Linked DNA regions of Homo sapiens. The protein of the gene in region 4 purifies or fractionates together with the protein of the main gene of each other region. This does not show direct contact. Each region holds a gene or a part of one and is shown on either strand. Other genes may lie near its edges. The genes, in order: ALDH1A3, DMXL2, ALMS1, ZHX1-C8orf76, UBE2Z, PPIP5K1 and RIC8B.

What was found.
Region 1: the proteins of ZHX1-C8orf76 (region 4) and ALDH1A3 purify together in Homo sapiens (affinity purification with mass spectrometry; one large-scale study listed by BioGRID and IntAct). This does not show direct contact.
Region 2: the proteins of ZHX1-C8orf76 (region 4) and DMXL2 purify together in Homo sapiens (affinity purification with mass spectrometry; one large-scale study listed by BioGRID and IntAct). This does not show direct contact.
Region 3: the proteins of ZHX1-C8orf76 (region 4) and ALMS1 purify together in Homo sapiens (affinity purification with mass spectrometry; one large-scale study listed by BioGRID and IntAct). This does not show direct contact.
Region 5: the proteins of ZHX1-C8orf76 (region 4) and UBE2Z purify together in Homo sapiens (affinity purification with mass spectrometry; one large-scale study listed by BioGRID and IntAct). This does not show direct contact.
Region 6: the proteins of ZHX1-C8orf76 (region 4) and PPIP5K1 purify together in Homo sapiens (affinity purification with mass spectrometry; one large-scale study listed by BioGRID and IntAct). This does not show direct contact.
Region 7: the proteins of ZHX1-C8orf76 (region 4) and RIC8B purify together in Homo sapiens (affinity purification with mass spectrometry; one large-scale study listed by BioGRID and IntAct). This does not show direct contact.

What each region holds. Positions count from the first base shown.
Region 1 is NC_000015.10:100,893,331-100,896,830, forward strand, and holds part of ALDH1A3 (retinaldehyde dehydrogenase 3), read left to right. Parts: exon of another isoform or gene 1-623; coding exon 624-752; exon of another isoform or gene 753-2,602; coding exon 2,603-2,716; exon of another isoform or gene 2,717-2,736; intron 2,737-3,500. UniProt on the Homo sapiens protein: Catalyzes the NAD-dependent oxidation of aldehyde substrates, such as all-trans-retinal and all-trans-13,14-dihydroretinal, to their corresponding carboxylic acids, all-trans-retinoate and all-trans-13,14-dihydroretinoate, respectively.
Region 2 is NC_000015.10:51,616,272-51,619,771, reverse strand, and holds part of DMXL2 (dmX-like protein 2), read left to right. Parts: intron 1-3,500. UniProt on the Homo sapiens protein: May serve as a scaffold protein for MADD and RAB3GA on synaptic vesicles. Plays a role in the brain as a key controller of neuronal and endocrine homeostatic processes.
Region 3 is NC_000002.12:73,444,836-73,448,335, reverse strand, and holds part of ALMS1 (centrosome-associated protein ALMS1), read right to left. Parts: intron 377-3,500; coding exon 1-376. UniProt on the Homo sapiens protein: Involved in PCM1-dependent intracellular transport. Required, directly or indirectly, for the localization of NCAPD2 to the proximal ends of centrioles.
Region 4 is NC_000008.11:123,236,287-123,239,786, reverse strand, and holds part of ZHX1-C8orf76 (zinc fingers and homeoboxes protein 1), read left to right. Parts: intron 1-642; coding exon 643-738; intron 739-1,845; coding exon 1,846-1,989; intron 1,990-3,500. Other genes in the region: uncharacterized protein C8orf76, read left to right, coding at 643-738, 1,846-1,989.
Region 5 is NC_000017.11:48,914,907-48,918,406, forward strand, and holds part of UBE2Z (ubiquitin-conjugating enzyme E2 Z), read left to right. Parts: intron 1-1,169; coding exon 1,170-1,281; intron 1,282-3,500. UniProt on the Homo sapiens protein: Catalyzes the covalent attachment of ubiquitin to other proteins. Specific substrate for UBA6, not charged with ubiquitin by UBE1. May be involved in apoptosis regulation.
Region 6 is NC_000015.10:43,569,709-43,573,208, forward strand, and holds part of PPIP5K1 (inositol hexakisphosphate and diphosphoinositol-pentakisphosphate kinase 1), read right to left. Parts: intron 3,453-3,500; coding exon of another isoform or gene 3,441-3,452; coding exon 3,326-3,440; intron 3,169-3,325; coding exon 3,061-3,168; intron 2,133-3,060; coding exon 2,016-2,132; intron 1,869-2,015; coding exon 1,704-1,868; intron 1-1,703. UniProt on the Homo sapiens protein: Bifunctional inositol kinase that acts in concert with the IP6K kinases IP6K1, IP6K2 and IP6K3 to synthesize the diphosphate group-containing inositol pyrophosphates diphosphoinositol pentakisphosphate, PP-InsP5, and bis-diphosphoinositol tetrakisphosphate, (PP)2-InsP4.
Region 7 is NC_000012.12:106,812,682-106,816,181, reverse strand, and holds part of RIC8B (chaperone Ric-8B), read right to left. Parts: intron 1,487-3,500; coding exon 878-1,486; intron 1-877.

The DNA.
Region 1 (3,500 bases), on a different chromosome or scaffold from region 4:
TTCCAAGGAGTGGGAATGGCCTAGGCAAAAGTGCAGAGGTGGCTGGGCTACTTGGAAGGGAACAGCAGGAAAGCTGGTGGGGCTAGAGCTCAGGCAGGAGCAAAAGTGAGGAAAAGGGTGAGCACACGTGGCAGGTGGTGTGGGCCAGCTTCCAGCAGCTTTGGCTGCTAAGGGGCCGGGACTTTATTCATTGGGCGGTGGGGATGCTTATAGGTGCCCAAGAAGTGCAACAATGCTGCCTGTCTGTTTGGGAAGCCTCTGGCCATTGCAACAACAGCCAGGCAGGAAGCTGAAGAGCCAGGTGGCAACATGAAGTGAGGGTTCAAAAAGTGCCCATGGAGGCAGGGAGGAGGACACGTCTTCAGCAGATGTTTTAGAGGGAGAGGTAGAACACATGCAACAGCATCCTCTTTGCAAAGGCTGCCTATTAGTACCACCCAGAATGCAGTTTAGGAAGTGCTGTGCAGGATTGCAGTTCTGATCATTGCACACTCCTATGTTACCCCACATACCCCAAATCCAGACCATGAAAAGCAAGTGTCCTCCACAAAGGCATCGTTGAGCACATGGGACAGGGTAAGAGGGTGGATCTGGGCCTCCAAAGCCCCTGTGCTCTGTCGCAGTGGAACTTCCCCCTGCTGATGCTGGTGTGGAAGCTGGCACCCGCCCTCTGCTGTGGGAACACCATGGTCCTGAAGCCTGCGGAGCAGACACCTCTCACCGCCCTTTATCTCGGCTCTCTGATCAAAGAGGTGAGACATCCAAAAAGAAAATATCACATGTTCTTGGTAACATTCCCACTCCTAGGAACCAGGCCACCGTCACGAGATGGGACAGTGGCAGACTGCTGGCAATCGAGTGGGAAGGGAATGACTTCCAGTGTTTTGTTTGGCGACTGCACGTTCTTTCTCCTGCTTGTGGCCACTGAGCTGGAGAAACTCCATTCCTCCCAGTGGTCCTAATGAGAATGCTTAACTCTTATTATGGGCTCAAACCTATGGTTGAGGACCCAGTGGTTTGTCTAGAGAATTTTCAGGGGGGGTCAACCAAGAGGGAGCCAAATATTTGGGAGGTTCTCTGGGATTTGCATTCTCAGTTTATGAAATGGTCCATTTTTCTCTGGAGAGGTGGCCTCGTCAGCTCTAGCTGGGCGGCTGCAGCAGTCCGTGTGCCGGGTCCCTGCTAATCAGTGCCCTCTGCTCTGAATGCAATCTCTTCTCCCTCAGGCAGCCAGAACTTAGGGAAACAGAGGCTCAATGGGACACCTCCTTCCAGACATACCTTTAGTCATTCCATCCCCAGGTTGTATGGAGCAAAGATTTAGAGAAAGCAACAGGAAGCAAAGAGGGACAGAAGAAAAGATCCATTCCTTTCTCTTCTTAGTCGGGCTGATATGACCGGCAGGCAGGTCCACAGTTGCTTAGAAGCAAGGTGGGAACAGCTGGTGATGAGCCAATTTTCCACTTTCCTTTGGTGATGTGGGGCATAATTAAGTCACACTGGTGAGACTTAGGAATGTGAAAATCCCAACTGTTAAGAAACAGTGCCTAAAAATCTAAAGACTCAAGCAGCGTGCCTAAAATCTTGATTTTCTGAAATAATGTGTTCTAAGTAAGACTCAGCACAGGTGGGGAAGAGCATCCTCCACCTCGTTTGTTTTGTGTTCTCGCCTGATAAAGAGGCTTAGTATATGAAAAACACGAGGCATGAACGTGAACGAGGTGGCAGTCCCTGCCTTCCAGAAGGGCTTGCTCCAGGTGAGACCCAGGTTGAACAAGCAAAGAACTTTAAGGGAGTGATACCCTGTCACCATTTGGAATAATAACGGGTCTGATTAAAAAATGAAAACTGGGCTCACGCCTGTAATCCCAGGACTTTGGGAAGCCGAGGTGGGTGGATCACGAGGTCAGGAGATCGAGACCATCCTGGCTAACACAGTGAAACCCCATCTCTACTTAAAAAAAAAAAAATTAGCCAGGCGTGGTGGCGGGCACCTGTAGTCCCAGCTACTCAGGAGGCTGAGACAGGAGAATGGCGTGAACCTGGGAGGCGGAGCTTACAGTGAGCCAAGATCGCGCCACTACACTCTAGCCAGGGCGACAGAGCAAGACTCCATCTCAAAAAAAAAAAAAAGAAGAAAAAACAAAACTGAAGCTCTTGGCAGATATTTTGCAGGTGCCTCTGATCCTGGGCAGGGCATTCTGATCAAGGTACCCCTCTCCCCTTAACGCATACACACACTCTCCCTCACACACACACACACCCCACATGGAAAGGTGCTGTGCTACAGGCGGGCCATGGCCACCTTGAAGCATAACCACACATTTGCACTGCATATCACTTTGGGATGGGGTCCCCCCCCAGAAGGAGAAGTGGGCATCTCCCCTTGCCCAGCCTGCACACTGGGCTGGCAGCAGGGGATGAGAAGCCCAGGTCAGCTCCCAGGGTGCCCACGGTCAACTGCTTCTGGGTCCTGGGTAAATCCAGCCCGGCCCGGGTTCCCTGTGGGGATGTGAGGCAGCCACGGCTCTCTCGGCCCAAATGTGGATCCGTGGTGGATGAAGTCCGTTCTTCTTCAAGTGCTATCTTGATTTCTTCCCAGGCCGGGTTCCCTCCAGGAGTGGTGAACATTGTGCCAGGATTCGGGCCCACAGTGGGAGCAGCAATTTCTTCTCACCCTCAGATCAACAAGATCGCCTTCACCGGCTCCACAGAGGTAACCCTCCTCACAGGGTGCTGGGGAAAGTGAAAGGGGCGTGTTATTTGACACCCGTGAGCTTTTCCTTTGACAGGCTTTAATATGATTTGTTTTTCTTCTAAATTTGACCATGTTTTAGTACATAACAACCAGTTAAAAAAAGTCACTGGTCTAGTTTCCAAACTAAATAAATATCTAATAGAACTCAGAAGCCTTAGAAGAAAAGATTGAGAGATAAGATAAAGTAGAAATGTAAAATATTCATCTGTCAAACACCATAATTAAGATTAAGAGATAAATAACAAGCTCAGAGAAAAATAGTCGTGATGCATGCAGTGCTCCAAGAATTTATATCCGTCATATGCAAAGTGCTCCTACAAGTCAATGAAAAAAAAAAACCAAACTGAATGGTAGAAAAATGGGCAGTTCAGAGAATAGAAATACGACGTGCCCATTAAGCTTAAACTAGTTTGCTGGTAATCAGGAAAATGCAAATTCAAACAAAATCAGACTTTCCTTTTGCCTGCCAGATTGCTAAGAACTGAAATGATACTGCTGAGAATATGGGGAAGCAGGTGCTCAGCGACACTTGCCCTAAGATGCACAGTGTTTTGGTAGCACTCATCCAACATTTAAAGTGAAAAACTTTTCGATTCAGAAGCTCCATTTCAAAAAAAGAAAAAACTACTTAGAGAAATTTTCTCATGAGGCTTCAGGGACATATTTTCAAGGATATTATATTCATTCTCTGGAATGTTTTACAGCCGTTACAACAAGGAAAGCTGTCCATGATCTATTGTTG
Region 2 (3,500 bases), on a different chromosome or scaffold from region 4:
CTTGCAACTAACTCATGATTCTTAGCTGATGTTGTGTTTCATGGTAGCCTGAGAACCTTTTCAAAATACAATACATACTTTATTTCAGAGTCTAAAATTGATACATCTTTGAAGAACAGAATTGTTCTAAAAGGATTTTGAGTTTATGACAGTGTAATAATTGAAAGAAATGTGTGTTATATATTTTGCTGTGCATGGTGGGTGGCGTGATTGGTTGGCTGTGAATGACTACTTGATGTCGTGATGTCCCAATTTGTGCAATATTGACATGGTACTGCAGTCTGTAGTGGACAATCTCAGCTGATGTCTGTGGTTTTAGTGGTATCACGTAAGCTATGATGCTTTTCACTTGTGTTTAGGCAGTATACAGCTGTTTCCTTAAACATTCGATTGTGATTTCGTAAATGTAGCTGTAGATATCACATTTTAAAACATCACCTTTTGAACAATTTTGTTCTTTTCAGTGTAAGATCTAGGTTTTCGAAATGTTATCCTGCAATAAGTCAAATCTCTGGTAGTTCAAAGAGATGATCTTCTCCCGTGTATGAGCTTTATTATACTTTATTTTGCCTTTAAGACATTTCTTACTACCCTTCAGTGAATGTTTTGAGGGTTTATGCAACAGATATTGTAAATTTCTCATTATTTATGTTATTACTTTTCTGAAAGATAGTCCTTGGCTATTTTTTAAACTTTACTGCACATATTAAAATATTAATTGAAATAATGATCATACGTGATGATTTTTTAAATTAAAAATTCATTTGGCCTTAAGGCTTGCAGACTATTTTGAGATGTATAGGGGCAGTTACTATTATTCCAGTGTGACATGATTTCAACACATTGATCAAAGTTTACAAAAATTAGTAAGTCATTTGCACTCTTAGGGAATTTATAATATACTGGCAGAGATTAAAATGATTTATATAATTATAACATAAGGCAGATGGAAGAGATTGTAGTTGGGAAAACAAGAAGAGGTTTTATGGAAGAGTAAGGTTTGGAAAGATAAGAACAACAGAAGCAAAGGAATGGCATAATACGAAGGATAAATTATTGAGTGACTGTTTTCTTTGCAAAAGTTACTTTTTAATCACAGGACTTCTTCATTAAATAACAGACACTCTTAGAATGTTGAAAAAATATAATATGCAAACATTACCTGTAGCTTTTCAGGAAAACGTACCTGGTATTCTGACATTCAATTTTTTTTTTAAATTAAAATACCAACAAAAGGTTGGAAATAAATGGAAAACCATTCATTTAAAAATTAGAAAATAATGTTGTATAACCTCTTTTATGGCATTTAGATATGTCTTAACTCTATTGTAGAATAAAATTTCAGTCCTAGAGTTATGGTAACACCAAACCTTGAAAATGATCAACCAGTTTATACATTTAGCAAATGTTGAACACATAGGTGTGCTAAGCTTTGTGGGTATTAAAAAAAAAAAAAAAGAATTACAAGACATAGTCTTGATTTCAGGGAGTTTATTGAAGAAGTGTAGGAACCTGGTAGTCTAATACGAGAGTAAAAGACACATACCTAACCACAGTAGGCCAGCTGTGCAATATTACCAGCATTTAAGTGGGAATTCAGGAAGACTAAGAGAACTTTTGGCCAGGGGAATCAAGGGGTTGGTTAGAAACATGCTTCTGTACTGGCTGGTTATTAATGTGTTAACCTGTGCTGAGAGGAAAGTGAAAGACAGAAGTCAAGAATTTAGAATGGACTTGTTTTCTAAGAGAAATTGGCCTTTTTGTTCTTGGAGTGTAGCTTCTTGTTTGTTTAAACGGATACATTTAAAACCTTGTGGGCTTGGGCTTAGTGTCAACCAGTAAGTGAATATAGGGTTTATAAGTTCTTATGTCCCTGCGTAGATTGTTAATTAGCCTTCTTGCTTGTAGCAAGAAGACTCCTAGCAACTACTCAGAAACTCTGGTAAGGTTCTGAATAATGTCTTCCCCAAAAATGGGAGGTCAGAGACCAACTACTTGTATGGTGTTGGTGAAATCACTTAAACATGTTTAGGTCTTTGATCTGTAAAAGAAGTTCTTAAAGATATTCTTTAAGTATTTAGACCACGAATGAAAATTATATGGACTTCTCTAGAGATTTTCAGGGGTCAAAAGAGAAAATGGACTAGAAACATAAAGTGGTTGTGTTGAAGTTGTAGGTCTGGAGTCTTTATCGTATATTGCTTCTCACTTGTATTTACAAGACTTGATCAGATCTCACTTGTATTTACAAGATTTGATCAGACCTCACAGTCGGGGAGTCTGACCTCCTTTCTGGCTCAGTAGATAGGCCATTCAGAGCATTTATGAAGTAGTGGGTCTAGGAATGAGTCTTTGGGCTTACAGCTGAGGAGAAGCCTCTTGATTAGGTTTTGGTCCTTGGCACCTGGCAGATGATAGTTGCCTGCGACTGTCATAGTACAGTATTGGGTGGGAGATGGGACCAGTGTGATGGTGTTTAGGTTCTCCTTTCGCAGCTTTCCTTTTCCCGTGCAATGCCTTTATTTTAGTTTCTGTTCTTAGGATTTGGGCTATTTAAAATATTACTTTAGAAATTATAATCAGATTATCTTAACTTGGATCTTGGTAAATTTTTAGAACAAATCAGAGTCTCAGTATTTAATTATCTGAAAGAGCACAGGATGTTGGGTGACAACCATAATGGCACAGTAGAAAAACAAGTCATGCCTGACCAATTTAATTTCCTTCTGTGAAACCAAGGCAGTACTTAAAATGGGATATAATATAGAATATCTAAAATTCAGATTTAGTCAGACTTCTCTAGCTTGTCAGTTTTTTTTTTTTTTTTTTTTTTTTTAGATGGAGTCTCACTCTGTCACCCAGGCTGGAGTGCAGTGGTGCAACCTCTGCTCACCACAACCTCCATCTCCTAGGTTCAAGCGATTCTCCTGCCTCAGCCTCCTGAGTAGCTGGAATTACAGGTGCGTGCCACCATGCCAGGCTAATTTTTGTATTTTTAGTAGAGACAGGATTTCACGATGTTGGCCAGGCTGGCTTGAACTCTTGACCTCAAGTGATCCTCCTGCCTCAGCCTCCCAAGGTATTGGGATTATAGGCATGAGCCACTGCACCCGGCCATTTGTCAGTAATTTTTTAAAACAAATTTGGAAGCCAAATATTTCAGTAGAAGTTTTAGGGTTTTCAGTCCTTTCGAGTTTGTAGAATCCTTTTGCATTATGTTAGTGCTCTGAAACCCTGATCCATGATGTAACTTGGTATTGAGGGACAAGTACATCTTAACAAAGGTGACATGACTATATTCACTCTCTCTTAAAGATAGCTCATGTAATCCTGGAATTTGATGTAAATATGAAACCAGTTGCCTGCACTTCTTATTTTTGTGTGTGTGGGTTTTTGTTTTCTTAAATTTCTTTTTTTTTCGTTTGCCTGCAAGTTTTACTCTCAAATCCTCTCATTTCATGATTCCTGAGGCTTCCTTTAATGCTATCTACCCCTAGTCC
Region 3 (3,500 bases), on a different chromosome or scaffold from region 4:
GCTGAAACTTTCAAAGCCTCTTCAGTTAGATGACTGTCTGGCAAGCCCTGCTGGTAGAAAATGCTGGGCTTCCCCCTATGTGAGTGGGAACTAGAGAGTACTGTTGGTGTTGCAGTCTTCTGGTCAGCTGGTTCAGGAATAGCTGTGACTTTCAGAGTCTCTTCAGTTAGATGAGTATCTGCTAATGTCTTTTGGTTGAGAGTATCAGTGTGTTGACCAGTAGTAGTTTCTAGAGGAGAACTTACAGCCAACTGAGACAGGTCCTCAAGGGACAAGGATAAATGAGATCCAATGTCTGAATCAACAGGAGTGGTAGTGATGCCTGACTTCAAGTTGGATTGAGTAACTTTAGCTATGCCTCCTTTAGAAGTGTCTCCTAAAGAAAAAGAGATTTGTTAATAGTATATAAAATTTTCTATTTTAAAATTCTATGTGCTGGAAAAAAGCCAGCTTTGAGCCTTTAAAAAGCTTCTAGAAATGAATCCTAAGGAAACAGCCATCAAAGGAGATAAATATTTGCACACAAAGATATTAATTAGAAAACTAAAGTAAAAACATTTTAATCTTCAACAACAGAGTAATGGTTATAAACAACAGTATATCCAGTGGATGAAATATTATATGGATCTTACAACTTGGATTTTTAAGAGAATTTTCAATGAGATGGGATAATGCTATTGGGTCTAGGATTTGATTTCACCCTACTTACAATCTGTTATTGTGTCTTGCAGGCTGGCAGAAGACATAAGGTCTTCAGTCAGAGACAAAAGACTTCATGATCCCTGGTACAGCAAAGGCTCATCAGCTTATTTTCACGGGTTCCTCCTGCCCCCAAGTCCCACAGGGGCAGTACAATATGGCCTAGAGGGATGCTATGCGTGCAGTGAGTTTGAAGGACTCTCCCAACAAATGCACCCTGTATAATATATATATATTTAAGTACATAAAACTGAAAAAACTCTAAAGGTTACTCTGAAGAGTTTTAACTTAATTCTGTATAGCATGGCAAGTTGTTTACAGTTTTAAAGTTTTCAAGATGAGTGAGAAGGGAATGTAAAAATCTAGGTTGCACAATCCAACAAACATTTCTATAGAAATGTTCTATATTTGCACTAATACAATAATTCTAAATGAAAGCAGTTTTAAACAGCAGTGTAAAGTAAGTGACTGCAACAGAAATGACAGGATTTGACAAGCTGTCCCTTCATTCATTGTTCATTCAAAATACATGAATGCTTACTATGTTCCAGGCACTGTTCTACATACAGCAATAAACAGACAATAATCCCTACCTCACAGAGCTAATTTGTATTCTAGCAGGAGGAGGCTGACAATAAATTGGTAAAACATATGATGTGTCAGATGGTGTTAAGATGATTGATATATAGAGCAAGTATTATCTATTTTTTACGTATAGGGAAACCGAGTTGCAAAGATGACCATGTAACAGTGCTTCTCAATGTTGGGATCTTGTTAACTTGCAGATTCTGACTCAGTAGGTCTGGGTGGGACCTGAAATTCTGCATTTCTAACAAGCTCCCCAGGGATGCCCAATGTTATTGGTCCTCAGACCACATTTTAAGTGCAAAGATACATAGTTTTTCTAGAATTGTAGGTGGGTAAGTGACAAAAACTGGTACTTTAACCCTTAAACTCTAAATCCAAGTTCTGAGCTCTTTCCACTACAACTGACTGGCTTTCTATGGCCACTGACGAGCTTCAAAGGAGCTGAATATAGAATGAAATGGGTTGAGGAGTGAATTTCAAAGTAAAGAACTAGAAGTATCAAGTATTAACTCTTCAAGAAAAGTAAAAAATTTAAAAATGTAACATGCATTGTAACCTGAGAAGGAATATGAGTTACAAAATTTTGTGAGGTTCTTGCCTGCTGGGTCTAAAGAAAATAAGAAAAGTTTTTGTGAGGAAACAAAACAGGCTCAAGAAGCTAATAAACCAAAACAGATTAACAAAACAAAACCTTGTTTTTCTAAATGATTTCCTGATTTCTCAAAGTTTTTATATCCCTTTGGCCATTACAAATTATTAGTGACACCATGAATGGGGACAAATGAGATAAATAGCTAAGGAGTTAAGATGTACAGCCCAGGTCCTTGAAAGATCCAGGTTACATAAGATAAGGTCTTTTTAACCTCAGGGGTAAAGGAAAAGATTAGTAAAGAAAACTGGAAGAACGACTATAGGTTAAGCTGTTAAAAGCGAGGGAGGAGATGCACGATGTTAAAGAAGAATTCTTGTCAGTTCTATATAAAGTTAAGGACATATATGTCAAACTGTCAGAAGAATGGTGATCACAAATCCATTAACTATGATTTATAAAATGTGTCTATGTACATAAGGAGTTCATGATGAAAAATGGTATGTTTTTAGAGTCCTTATTATTCTCTCAGCCCTGGGAAAGAAGAATACACTAAGTGTGAGTGTTAACAATATTACTACATACTGATATAATCTTTGGAGATTCATTTTCAGAACTAGGGGTGAGTTGAAGAGGTAAGTTTCGACCAAGAAGAGGAAGATGGCTGCCAGAAAAGACTATACTACACCAAAGTTGTATATTGGGTGGGAACTGTATGCCTCTTAGAGATGACATTAAGACTAACAACCTGGGTACAATTTACTCAAGAACTCTTCTCCATACTAAGGTGCTTAGTAACACAGAAGGCTTCCTAGGTGACGAAGACAGCACGGTTTTATTTCCCCAAGTATATTCTGACATAAGAAGAATAAGCAAGCCCTTTATTTCTCACAGACAAAATGAGGTACAATTCCATACTTCCATTTTACATATGACTAAGAGCCTCTTACTAGTAATCGTTCCAAGTCAATTATTATGGGTTTTAATACTAGCACACACAAATAAATTACTATAGCTCTCATTTTGAGCCCTCTAATTCAGTCACTAATAAGTCTGTAACGGGGCTGGGAAGGTAGTGAGGAGGATGGTTAATGGGTACAAAAATGTAGTTAGAATGAATAAGCTCTAGAATATGATATAGTACAATACGGTGACTACAGTCAACAATTATTTATAACGCATTTTAAATTAAAAGAGTATAACTGGAATTTTCACAACATAAAGAAATAATGAATGCTTGAGGTGACAGATACTCCATTTACCTTGATGTGATTATTACACATCGTATGTTTGTGTCAAAATATCTCATGTACCCCATAAATATATACACCTACTATGTTCTCATAAATATTAAAAATAAAAAAGATTTTTTTTTAAAAAGTCTGGCAAAAGCACCTATTGTGTGTACAGAGAAGTAAACTCAAATTCATGTTTTTTTAAAAAGACACCAGTGATATTTTAAATGGGTCTTTGTCTTCATTGTTGTTATTCTTGCTTTCTAATTAATTACTATATCATTTTTATAAGTTCCTAATTATTAATTATTGATAACTAAATAATTATAATTGTGTTGTATTTCGTTAATCCCTCAGTTAACTCATAGATGTTTATCTCTACATTCATT
Region 4 (3,500 bases):
AAACTCCTAACCTCAAGTGATCTGCCCGCCTCGGCCTCCCAAATTGCTGGGATTACAGGTGTAAGCCACTGCCTTTCCCTACGTTATTTATTCAATAGTCAAGCAATCTCAGTCTCACTTTCCTTTTTATCCATAGGATTTAAATCAGTAGAAAAGCAAATAAAGTATCCTAGATGGGCATTTCCTCAGACTTCTCTCCTACAGGTTTTTGGTATTTGGTTGCATTGGAGCCTCCTTCTAGCCTTAATTTCTGTCTCCTTTGCTGAAATTCTAGTTTTTTGCCATTATGACATTTTCATAATAGCACCATATCTATAATTCTTCTTTCCTATGTCCTTTCAGTAAAGAATTGTCAATCCCTATTCCAGTCACACTAAAGTTTATCTACAAGAAAGCATGTCTCATTTTAAAGAACCAATGTGGGCTGGGTGCGGTGGCTCACACCTGTAATCCCAGCACTTTGGGAGGCCAAGGTGGGCAGAGGCAGGATCACTTGTGCTCAGGAGTTCAAGACTAACCTGGCCAGACTCTTGAAGAAGTCTTTTTTTGACGTTTAATCAATTATATTATGGGAAATTGCTTCTGAATATGAGGTGGAAAAGCATAGCTCACTCTGTAATAGGCTATTTTCATGATTTCAAGTGGTTTTATGAAGAAACAGAAAGCAGTGATGATGTTGAAGTGCTGACTCTCAAGAAATTCAAAGGAGACCTGGCCTACAGACGACAAGAGTATCAGGTAGAATTCAACATATGGTGCTTGAAGTGGGCTCTTGTTTTATCAGTTATGGCATATGTAAATAACAGTGTACCAAGTTAGTGTGGTGTTTATGAAGATGAGTTTAATCTTTTGTGATGTGTGTTTATAATCTGAGGCTCCCAAGTTTCCGTTCTTTTCTGCTTGGCTCTGTATGATTTGTTTGTTTTCTGTAACTCCAACAAAAGGATCTCTTTGGGGTCCTTGTCCTTGTAGGTTTATTCCTCAAGGTTCTGAATCTCCTCATTACTTAGGACCCTCTAGCACAGACATTTCACAGTGCCACAGGAGCAAATCACCCCAAAATGTATAAGAAAAAGAACTAACAACTAGATGTTAGATTGCGTTACATATGTATCTCATTTCATCTGCATGAGAATCCTGTTTTTATTTTGCTGATGAAAAGGTTATAAAGTAAGTTAGTGGCAATACCAGAATTCAAAGCCTAGTATATTTGGTCCCAGAATGTTCTTTCTGCTATATCATGATGCTTTCCATAGTAGTAGTGATTATATTCTCTAGCCATTCCTTCTCTACCTTTTAGGAAAGTAGGATTGACTAGATGTATTAGTCCATTTCCATACTGCCATGAAGAAATACCCAAGACTAGATAATTTATTTAAAAAAAAAAAGGTTTAATGGACTCACAGTTCTACATGGCTGGGGAGGCCTCACAATCATGGCAGAAGGTGAAGGAGGAGCAAAGTCACGTCTTACATGGCGGCAGGCAAAGAGAGTGTGTGCAGGGGAACTGCCTTTTATGAAACTATCAGATCTCCTGAGACTAACTACCATGAGAATAGCATGGGAAAAACCCACCCCCATGATTCAGTTACCTCCCACCAGGTCCCTCCCACAACATGTGGGGGTTATGGGAGCTGCAATTTAAGATGAGATTTGGGTGGGGACACAGCTAAACCATATCACTAGAATAGTGAAATCTTCTTTAATTCATTTAAATATTCATGTAATTCATTGGTCAGTTATAACATTACTTTCCACCTAGGAAAAAAAATCACCCCTATTCTGAATCCTTTTTTCTGTTATGTTTTCCTCCTTTCATTTCTTTATTTAACAAATAATTTCCAGAAAGCACTGCAGGAGTATTCCAGTATCTCTGAAAAATTGTCATCAACCAATTTTGCCATGAAAAGGGATGTCCAGGAAGGTCAGGCTCGGTGTCTGGCTCACCTGGGTAGGCATATGGAGGCGCTGGAGATTGCTGCAAACTTGGTGAGTGATTTTATTGCTTATTTTCACACACATTCCTATAAGGGTGGTCGAATGGTGTATTTTTTGAAAACAAAACAAACTTCTTGCTAGTAGCAAAATCTATGGGTTTGGATAAGCAGAAGAAAATTGTCAGGGGTGTGAGAGTTTTATTATGATGAACAACTTGGAACCTAGACATAATCATTTTCTTGTAATATTTTTCTTGTGTCATGCTCAAAATTCTGTATTGCCTGAAAATCTCCTTTGCAGAGGTTTTTCTCTTGTTAGGAGTAACATTCAGTGTGGAAGGACTATGAGTGATCTGTTTTCTTCGTTAGATTGTTTTTAGACGTTGTTCTCCAAAATTTCTACAATGAACAGTATTTTTCTAAGCCAAAAAAGGTCCCCCCCCCAAAATGACTAAATACTCATTACCAAGCCACACTTAGTAGTCCTTTTTATTTTTAAGTGGAATTTGCAGAATTTTTTTTTCTTTTTCCTTTTCCCCAGTCAACGAAAGGGACACTTTATGACACTTTATTGAGGCCCCAGGGCCATGAGGCCTGGGCAGGACGCCGCTCTTTGGGGAAGGAAGAGCCTTCTTTGTCCTTCGTCTTGGGGTACAGGTTGTTGGTGTGGCCGCGCTTCTTGCGGGAGTTGACAGCACGGGGTGGTGCAGGCGGGCACAGCACTTGCGGCAGATCATCTTGTTGTAGTTGTATTTCTGGGCGAGCTGGCGGAGGGAAGGCTCAGTAATGCCACCTCGCAGGCGCAGCACCAGGTGCAGGGTGGACTCCTTCTGGATGTTGTAGTCTGAGAGAGTGCGGCCATCCTCCAGCTGTTTGCCCGCAAGTATCAGACGCTGCTGGTCAGGTGGGATGCCCTCCTTGTCCTGAATTTTGGCGTTGCTGGGCTCGATCTCAAGGGTGATGGTCTTGCCTGTGAGGGTCTTCACAAAGATCTGCATCTCTGCATCTGGAGCTCGGCAGCCTCGCTGAAGAAAAAGGGAATTTTTCTTTCTTTTTTTTTTTTTTTGAGACAGAGTCTCACTCTGTCACCCAGGCTGGAGTGCAGTGGAGTGATCCCGGCTTGCCGCAACCTCCGCCTCCCGGATTCAAACGATTCTCCTGCCTCAGCCTCCTGAGTAGCTAGGATTACAGGCATGCACCACCACGCCCAGCTAATTTTTGTATTTTTAGTAGAGACGAGGTTTCACCATGTTGGTCAGGCTGGTCTCAAACTGACCTTGTGATCCGCCCGCCTCGGCCTCCCAAAGTGCTGGGATTATAGGCGTGAGCCACTGCACCCGGCCTTCTTTTTCTTTAAAAAAAAATTTTATTGCCTTTTTCCACACATTCTAAAGCGGAATTTTTTTTTAAGGGATAAAGAAAGGTAGTTCTTTCCAGTTCTAGATTTTATTGCTTTTGTTTCTAGGTTAAGGCATTATTTGTATTGATTGTTGTGTAAATTTTATATGGGAATTAGTCTAAATGGACTAGTTTTCTTCCTCGGAGGAAATTAAGGAGACACTG
Region 5 (3,500 bases), on a different chromosome or scaffold from region 4:
GCTACTCGGGAGGCTGAGGCACAAGAATTGCTTGAACCTGGGAGGCAGAGGTTGCAGTGAGCCAAGATCACGCCACTGCACTCCAGCCTGGGTGACAGAGGGAGACTTTGTCTCAAAAAAGAAAGAAAAGAAAATTCTTAGGTGTTCCTAGTTGACTGTATTAGCTTTATCAGCCATGTTTTTTTTTTCCTCTTTACCTAGAAAACAATGTTGGGCTGACTTACTGACAAAAGAAATTTAACGAGAGTTGACTCTGTTGTAAAGCTTCAGAGAGCAGTAGGTCTAGAGTTCCTGGGGGAGCAAAGCTGAAAAGATAGAGGCACTTAAGAGCAGTCCCCAGTGAAGTTACTATTAGGCATTACTGACTTGGGCTTTCCTCAAGTACAGCAGGGAAACAGAAGCAGGCAGTCAACTTGAACAAGCCAGTCCTGGCTTAGGTTGTGTTCGGCTTCCAGCTCCGGTGCCATCTCTTCAATTAATTGAGCTAAAAATAAATGTCATTAACATCCAAGCTGTCCCCTCCCCCTAATACTTGGTTGGGTTTATGAAAGAGAGGAGCAATTTTGGTATTTGACGTTTTCCATATATTATTTTCAGACCTTCCACTGTCTGGAAGCACCCCTTATTCTCTTCCTGTTCTTTGGAAGAGTTGTGTAGTCTTAAGAGAATTTGACACTCCTTGGGGGTTTGATACAGAACTGGATCCCCAATAGCCCCACCACATGGCCTCTAACCAGATGGCTTCAGTCACCTGTGTCCCTTTATGCTCAACTTCCCTCTCCCCTCACTAACTCCATCACCACCCATAAACAAGCTCTTTGAGATCCACGGAGATTAACATTTAGACAACTTTGGAGCTAATTGCTTACCTAATTTCTTTTGTTTTGATTGTCGTAACTGTTTCTAGTACAAAGAAAATCCCTTCAAAGTTACATAGCTTGCTATTACCTGTTCTTTTGCCCCCCCCCCTTGATTTGAGGATTAGGCAATTGACTGATTTCTGGTGAAATCAGAACATGAGCATGAGACAGAGGCTGGGAAATTCCAGAGTATTAATAGTGAAAGAGAAACTTATGGTGAGTCACTTATGGTGGTGTTGCCGGGCCCCAGGGTACTTGTTCCCTATTCTTTCTCTGCCTCACCCTCCATTCCTTCTGATGTGTTTACAGTACATGGACTGGACCTGCCTGGAGCCCAGCCCAGAGCATCTCCTCAGTGCTCATCTCTATCCAGTCCCTGATGACTGAGAACCCCTATCACAATGAGCCCGGCTTTGAACAGGTAAGGCCAGATGGGCCTGGCTCTGGGGTGTAGACTATTGTTTTTGTTTGTTTGGTTGGTTGGTTTTTTTGTTTTTTTTTTTTTTTGAGACAGAGTCTTCCTCTGTCACCTAGGCTGTAGTGCAGTGGTGCAATCTCAGCTTACTGCAACCTCCGCCTCCCGGGTTCAAGCCATTCTGTCTCAGCCTCCCAAGTAGCTGGGACTACAGGCGTGTACCACCATGCCTGGCTAATTTTTATATTTTTAGTAGAGATGGGGTTTCACCATATTGGCCAGGCTGGTCTCCAGCTCCTGACCTGGTGATCCGCCTGCCTCGGCCTCCCAGAGTGCTGGGATTACAGGCGTGAGCCACCGCGCCCAGCCAGAATAGTGTTTTAAGAGATCTGCTTGGGAGGTTTTTTTTGTTTTGTTTTGTTTTGTTTTGTTTTGGACCTAGCACAGCCCCATGTACTACATTTGTTGGTATAGGGAAAAAAAGGGAATTGACACGTGTTTTTTAGTAATGAAATTTTTTGCCGACCACTGTGGCTCACACCTGTAATCCCAGCACTTTGGGAGGCTGAGGCAGGCAGGTGGATCACCTGAGGTCAGGAGTTTGAGACCAGCCTGGCCAACCTGGTAAAACCCCATCTCTACTAAAAATTAACTGGTCAGAAGTTTGAGACCAGCCTGGCCAACATGGTGAAAACCTGTCTCTACTAAAAATAAAAGAAATTAGCTGGGTGTGATCACTTGAACCCTGGAGGCAGAGGTTGCAGTGAGCTGAGATCACGCCATTACACTCCAGCCTGGGTAAGGAGCGAAACTCGGTCCCCCCACCCCCAAAAAAATAATAATGGCCAGGCGCGGTGGCTCACACCTGTAATCCCAGCACTTTGGGAGGCCGAGGCGGGCAGATCACAAGGTCAGAAGTTTGAGATCATCCTGGCTAACACAGTGAAACCCAGTCTGTACTAAAAATACAAAAAATTAGCTGGGTGTGGTGGCAGGCGCCTGTAGTCCCAGCTACTCGGAGGCTGAGACAGGAGAATGGCGTGAACCCAGGTGGTGGAGCTTACAGTGAGCCAAGATTGGGCCATTGCATTCCAGCCTGAGCGACAGAGCGAGACACCGTCTTAAAAAAATAATAATAATAATGAATTTTTTTATTTGTGAGAGTTACAATAAGTATGTGACTTGGATTCCTTTATAGCATGGAAGTCAATGGACTCCTTTGGAAATTAATTCTGACCTGCTTTGGGGGTTGTGGCATCCAGTGGGTTCTATGTGCCTATATTCTCAGCATCCCCTAAAGTTGCTCTGTAGGGACTACTACCCAGCCAGCTGTTCTTCTGGGGTTATGAAGGACTGTTACCTGCAGAGTCAAAGGAGCTAGTCATTAGGAGTCCCGGGCAAGACTTTTTGAGTTAACAGTGCCAACGAGAAGGTGGAGAAAACTCACATTTTTCCAAGAGCATGCTCTGTGCTGGACACTACCAAGTTTTTATATATAATTTCTTGTTTAACCTTCATACTATGTGAGGTTAAATATGGTTATTCCCATTTTCAAGTGAAATAATGTTGCCTCAGAGAGGTTAATTAACTTTCACAAAGACACACAGATCAGGATAGGACCCCAGACTTACATTGGAGCCCAACTTCTCCCACTCTTCCGATGTGCCTTCCTGAATTACTCATGAGCACGGGAAAAAGTTCCAGTGATAGTCCCAAAAGAAAATGATTCCGGATAGGTGATTAGAACAGCTTAATTAATTTATTTATTTTTTGAGACAGAGTTTCACTATTGTTACCCAGGCTGGAGTGTAATGGCACAATCTCGGCTCACAGCAACTTCTGCCTCCCAGGTTCAAGTGATTCCTCTGCCTCAGCCTCCCGAGTAGCTGGGATTACGGGCACGCACCACCACACCTGGCTAATTTTTTGTATTTTTAGTAGAGAAGGGGTTTCACCATCTTGGCCAGGCTGGTTTCGAATTTCGGACCTCAGGTGATCCACTCGCCTTGGCCTCTGAAAGTGCTGGGATTACAGGCGTGAGCAACCATGCCTGGCCAACTTAATTTATTTTTAAACTATTACATATGACACCAACTTTGATTCTTCCTCTATAGACCTGAACAAAGGATAATAAAATGCCTTTCAAAAATGAAAAATAAAAATTTTTTTTGAGACAGAGTCTCACTCCATCACTCAGGCTGGAGTGCAGTGGTGTGATCTCGGCT
Region 6 (3,500 bases), on a different chromosome or scaffold from region 4:
GAAAAGAAAGCCTGTGATTACAATAGGAAGCTTCCCATAGGCCTGAAAGAAGTCAATCTTATCAAGTCTGAGAGATGATACACAGAGCTTTCCTTTACCTGTGCCTTTTTTTTTTTTCCATCTTATAATGTTTTAAAATTTTTTGTAGAGACAGGATCTTGCCATGTTGCCCAGGCTGGTTTTGAACTCCTGGCCTCAAATGATTCTCCCACTTAGGCTTCCCAAAGTGTTGGGATTACAGGTGTGATCCACCACACGCAGCTGTCTATGTCTTATGACTGCATAAACCAGAAAAAAATGGTTGGGGGATGGGGGACGCGGTTCAGGCACAACAGCACCAGGAGAGACTAGCAGACCATGTGAATAGGAAAGACATTTGGAGGATCAGTTTATTGATGGAAGATTATGTATCATTCTATCCATGTGATCTATTGGATGTGAGTATAAAGGGTAATAGAGTACTACGGATACCAACCGACACCTACACCTCAAAGAGAAAATAATGTATATCCTACCTAAAGAAACTCTGCATATTACCAATGGCAATTTCACCTTAAAATAATCAGGAAGTAAAGGATGAATCAAAAGAAGAGACTGCAGTTCATCTTCTCAGCTTTCTCCAAAATCTGAATTGCAAAACTTTTGCTGAACCTAGGTCAGCTTGTTATAGATTCTTCTGATATATCCCTAAAATGGAAAAACCAATTCCTCTAAGATAGAGACCTGGCACCGAGCCAGGGTGAACACGGTCATTAGGACAGAGCAGAATCTAAATCAGACAGTCAAAGTCTCTGAGACAGGGATAAATTGTGGTGTCAAAATGAATGTAAGTGATACAGAAAGAGCAAGATAGGGGAAAAAAAAAAAGGATATAATTAGGCCAAAGACAGAAACAGTTTTTCCAGGAAAAAGACCAAAACAAAAACCTCAGATGGTTAGCTGGACACAATATGAGATTAATAACACTTACTGCCTTTAGGCTAGAGAGCTAGAACCAGAACTAGAAACAACCTCCAAGAACAGCAGAATATAGGCCCATGCTGATAAAGATCCTCATTAGAACAAGAGGAAGACAGACAGAGCTCTTGACTGACCCACTTTCTGGAATGACAGTACAGATAAAGTGCCAGGTATTTGCTCCTATCTGAGCTATAATTTTTACCCAAGGTGACCAAGAGCTGGAGAGGGCTGGACCTTTAATATCAATTGCATTGTTAATATATTACTGCTTGTTGAGCATCTATAAAGTGGATACTACTCACATTTTAGAGGTGAAAAAAAATTGAGGCTTAGAGAAGTTAAGGTCAGAGAAATGTAGAGAAGTTACCCAGCCAAAGTCACACAGCTTCCAAGTATTACACTGGGATTTTGGCCCGGAGTTCAAGCTGTTTCCACTAGATTTCCTTTTAAAGAACTACCTTTTCAAATTCATCCAGAGGCCTCCTCCTTAATCTTATCTCTTTAAACCCTTATCTCTCAGGCATCCCTCAATGGCAACTCTTTAATCTGAGAAGTAGCAACCAGTTAAAGAAGCACTACTGGGAGACCAGCTGTGAAAGAGAGATTAAGTAAAACATATCAATCAGAGCAGGAGGACTCTGCTTCAAGTCCCAAGAGACCCCCCAAGGGGATCTAGTGGATCTGTGGATATAGTCCTATGAGCACTGCCACCCCTTCATTTCTTCCCAAGGCCCTCTCATTACCTCCATGGAACCAGCTTTTCGGTTACGAATGAGGGGTGATCTCCTCGGAAGGCCAGGGCCCTCAGGAGGCTGGGGTGAAGTCTGCAATGCCCGGTCTGGTTCATCTGATGCCTTTCCTGGACACAGGTTCTCCATACTGCCTTGGTTGGTTTTCATCTCCTCATTCTATACAACAAAAGGCAGATAAGAGAGGTGTTAATGGCCTCCAAAATCCTAATCCCAGACTACCTAGCCCTTTTACTTCTCCCTGTACTGCTTCCCACCACTTGGTTCCTAAGTCCTTCAGTCCCAAATCCCAGCACTCTGACCCACCTCAGAAGAGGCTGGACGGAATCCACAGCCAGCCGGGGCACTGCCTTCTTCCTCAACACCTTTCACTCCGGGGCTGAAGTGTAGCTCCACATGGAACCGTTCCTCTGATAAGGGATCCTATGGAGCATAACCACAAGAGGGGGAAGTTGGGAGAAGCTGGATATTGTGGTGGAAGTAGAGAGGAACTCAAGGGGATTCATCCTCCCAGGAATTCAGGGTCTTGTCCCACTCCGGGGCTGACCTGTTATAGCTTCCTTTCAACTATATATTGTCTCTTACAGGATCCTCATTCCCTCATCTCTACCATTTGTGATTTCACCATTGCACATGACTTCTGAACTTCCAGCTTTACAACGCTTCCCATCACCTTCCACAATAACTCAGCTTGGCTGTGGTGCATATAGCAGAACATTTAAAGATACCTTGTGGGCCAGGAGCAGTGGCTCACACCTGTAATCCTAGCACCTTGGGAGGCTGGGACAGGCAGATCACTTGAGTCCAGGAGTTTGACACCACCCTGGGCAACATGTTGAGACCCTATCTCTACAAAAAATTAGCCGGGCATGGTGGCACATGTCTGTCATCCCAGCTACTTGGGAGGCTGATGTGAGAGGATCACTTGAGCCCAGGAGGCAGAGGTTGCAAGGCTGCAGTGAGCTCAGATTGTAGCACTGCACTCCAGCGCGGGTGACAGAGTGAGACCTTGTCTCAAAAAAAAAAAAAAAAAAAAAAAAGTATCATTGTGGAGCCGTATGCAGAAGGTATATGTATAACCATGTTTGAGGAAATAAGACTCATAACATTGTCCCAAATTCCATACTCTTCTAATGCCAGAGCTGTGTTCTAGGTTACCTCTCTGGCTCAACAACATCCCAGAACATATTTTCCATTCCAGTAGGAACCTCCTGGATGCTCTGTGTCATGCTGTGCGTAAGTGCCACACCTAGCTGGATTCTCCAAATTATAAGGATAAGCAAGTTTTTTTTTTTTAATAGAATTCAAAAGAAGGGGCCTTCCTCTCATCTCCCACCTGCTAGCTCCTCACCTGTGTGTTGTCCTCATAAAGCATGATGACAATCTGGGTCATGTAGTTAAGCTCTGAGATGGCACTAAGATAATCCAAAGCTCGCTGCCATTGTGCATCCTGGGTCTCCTACCAAATGCAAAAAGAGGTAAGCCATTGCTTAAGGAAATGGGAGTCAGAGAATGAGCAGGGAGCCAATGAGAATGGAGAAAGCTTTCATTTGAGAAGAGTAAAAGAATGCTGGGAAAAAGCTGTTCACAGGCTAAAGAAGAAGGAGGATCCTTACATCAAGAAGTCCTCCATAACGGAAGACACTGAGCAGGGAGTGGACATGGCTCTCACTGGTGAAATAGAGACGCGTTCGAACGTGGCGACCTGGGGAGAGCACGCCTCGGGAGTACCTGAGATAACAGCTAAATCACTCACACAGTCAGTTAACCCTGTTCCCACCCTTCTGCAAA
Region 7 (3,500 bases), on a different chromosome or scaffold from region 4:
AATCTCTTTCTTTTTACAGGAGGGGGTGAATTTCAACAGTTATTTAAAGCTAAAAAGAGAATAAATGTGACATGTTATGCTTCTAGAAGGAGGGAAAAAAGCTTATGTCTACTTCACTTAATTTGTTGACTTCCTTAAACTAAGTTTCCTATTTAGCATATTGTTCTTGTGGGTACTCAAATGTAAACTATCAAATCTGCGTCACTTTGGGTTGCTGAAGGGTCCAAGCCACAGTGAAGAAAGATCTTTGTTTAGAAATAAGTCAAGTGGTTTAAAATAACCTTTCCCACACTCTGGTATAATCAGCTTGTTTTCTAGAACTTATATATGAGCACAGATATCTAGTTGTGGTCCTATGCCTCTGATAGTTATCTAACACTACAGAGAAACCTCCCAGAGACTGGGACAACAGGCATACACAGAGCATCTTCTACTCTCCTGAGCAGACACCAATTCTGATTGATCAACTTCAATTGGCTTGATCTGTCTTAACTTTTCTTTAAGATGGCAGCCACTGAAAATGCCTATAGCTTTATCAACTACATTGTTTTGTTTCCCCTCAAATCTTATAATTTAAACCTTATTCCTGAAAGCGGCACTCTTAAAAAGAGAGAATAATGCAACTCAGAAAACTATATTTGGCATCTTACAAAATAGTAGTCCATTTTTACACCTATTCTGATAGGTGTTATCACACAAATGGAAAGAATAAGACTTACAATGGTTAAGAAGTATATCCTGGGTAATACAATTGCTTAATGGGAGAAGTGGGAACTTTTTCCATTTCCCAACTTGTATTCTTCTCTTGCAGGAAACTCTAGGGATGTCCCAGACCAATTAAATTCCAGGTAGACAAAAATAGCCTTCTCTACCTTACCTCTTTATGCACCTTCCAACTGTCTACCGTCACATTGAAGAGAGCTTTGAGGGCCTCAATGGCACAGTCTGTCTCCTGAGGTGAGAGAGGAGGTCCATTATGGTCTATGGCCGATTCATACTCATCGGTCCACTTGATGCTAAAGGCACTTTCCAAGATCTGCGTTAGCAGCGGTAGTCCCTGGAGCTCATAGCGCAATTGTGACCTGATGTCGGTGTGCAAAAGTGACAGAAGGAAGAGCAAGCGCAAGTCAAAGCACTTAATGTCATTGATAAATTTCCGGTCCTTGCACTTTCTCAGGAGGTTACAGAGCTTTGCAGCAAGATTAAGTTCCAGGCTGAGCTGCTGTGCCATCTGACTGTTGAACACTATATTACACAGACATTTTAATGACTCCACAATAACTGGGAACTCTGATACTTTCTCCAAAGAATCATCTAACTCATTTAGCTTGGCTAGTCGCAGCAGTATCTGCATATTTTCCTTAGTTGTCACAGGAACTAAAACCTTTTTGTCTCTGGAGAGAATGCGGAGTACTTCCAGGCAGGACACTTGACATGTTGTTGGGATGTCCTTTATAAGGACTTTAAATATGCCTTCACAGAGTTTCTGAAAAACAAGAACGAGTATGCAAAAATCATTATTTGGCTCAAATGACTTAACACAGAATGTTTCTCTGCCAATGTACTTAACAACAGTTAAAAATCCAGAGAGAAAAGGTTTTTATTATTTTTTAAATCACGGAATGTTAGAAACTGAAATATAAGGTCACCATCAGGATGGAAGACAATCAGTTTGAATCATAGCTGTTCCCTTCCCAGAAATAAAGATTAACGTCTCAAGAATTGGTTCATATTTGTCCAGAGTACAGGCTCTTGCAAAAAGACTTAAAGAAGTATGCATTTCTGCTGAGTTTTAGTCATGCTATTGCTTCTGAATTTATAGCTCTTTAGCAGCAGTCCCATGTTTCAGAAACCCTTGAACCCCCTTTAGCTAAGATCTAATAATATTTAATCATCAAACAACCCCAGAGAAGAACTTTTGCTGACAAACTGATAAAAAATTATTCAAGTGTTAGGTTCCAAATAGAGTTGAATTAGCATCTATTATGCCTTGAGCCAATTGCAAAAAGGTGACCCCTCCTGGTATACAAACTACAGAAAAAAGTTCCCACTGGGTGGGCAAATTATTAAAAAGCACACATAGCTTGGAAAGCTCAGACTGTGGACAGAATTTTAGCTTTCTTTTGTTATCTTGCTGTAGGGCACAGACTGTACAAATATATGTAGTAGTTCTGGTTCCAAACCTTGCTATCAATATCTCAAAAACAATTCTAGAATGAACCCAAATATCTTATATTTCCTAAAAAGGATTTTTTTATACCATTGTCAAATTTAAGGATCACTGACCACTCCCTCAAAATTCAATGTCAGTTTTCTTCTCTACAAACTGCAGGTCTGGGTCTCTCAAGCTTACCCTTATATGTGAGGCAAGCAGGTATAACTACTCTATCACCGAACATTTCTGTACTCCCTTACATCTTATAAAAACAACAACTACTATTACCAATATAAGATTTTACAAAATTTCTATTAATCTATCATCAGACTTAATTCTTCAATAAAAAGAGGCTGCCTGTGGGTCCCATTGTGATCTTGTCAGGAAACCTAGGCTATGTGCACATAGTCATCAGCTACAAAAATGCCTATTTTAAATGTAGTCATCCCTTGGTATCTGTGTGGGATTGATTCCAGAACCCTCTGCAGATAATAAAATCCACAGATACTCAAGTCTCTTATATAAAATGGTATAGAAGGCTGGACGCAGTGGCTCACGCCTGTAATCCCAGCACTTCAAGAGGCTGAGGAAGGCGGAACATGAGGTCAGGAGATCAAGACCATCCTGGCTAACGTGGTGGAACCCCGTCTCTACTAAAAATACAAAAAATTAGCTGGGCATGGTGGCACGTGCCTGTAATCTCAGCTACTCGGGAGGCTGAGGCAGGAGAATCACTTGAACCAGGGAGTCGGAGGTTGCAGTGAGCCAAGATCATGCCACTGCACTCCAGGCTGGCAACAGAGCGAGACTCTGTCTCAAAAAAAAAAAAAAAAAAAAAAGGCATAGTATTTGCATATAACCTATGCACTTCTTACTGTATACTTGAAGACATCACTAGATTATTTATAATATCTAATACAATGTAAATGCTACGTAAATCGTTTTATTATTTAAGGAATAATGACAGAAAAGTTTGTACATGTTCTACACAACTATCCTTTTTTTCCTTGAGTATTTTCAACCTACAATTGATTAAATTCATAGATGCAGACTGCACGATACAGAGGGATGACTGTATTGCGTTCTCTAAATAGATGTGGAAAAGAACTTTATCTGATAAGACAAAAAAAAATTTCATAACATTGTCAATTCTATCCCTGCCATACCTGATATTTAGAAAGGACTTTCTCTTAATATTTTACTATCATTGTTAAAGCACTTTTTTTGAATGTAGTTTGGGGATAGTGGAAAGTATAATGTGCCCATTAATTAAAAGTATACAGAACAGGGAAAATTTTCTCCATATTTAGATCTTTCATATTCAAGACAAAAAAATACATTCTAC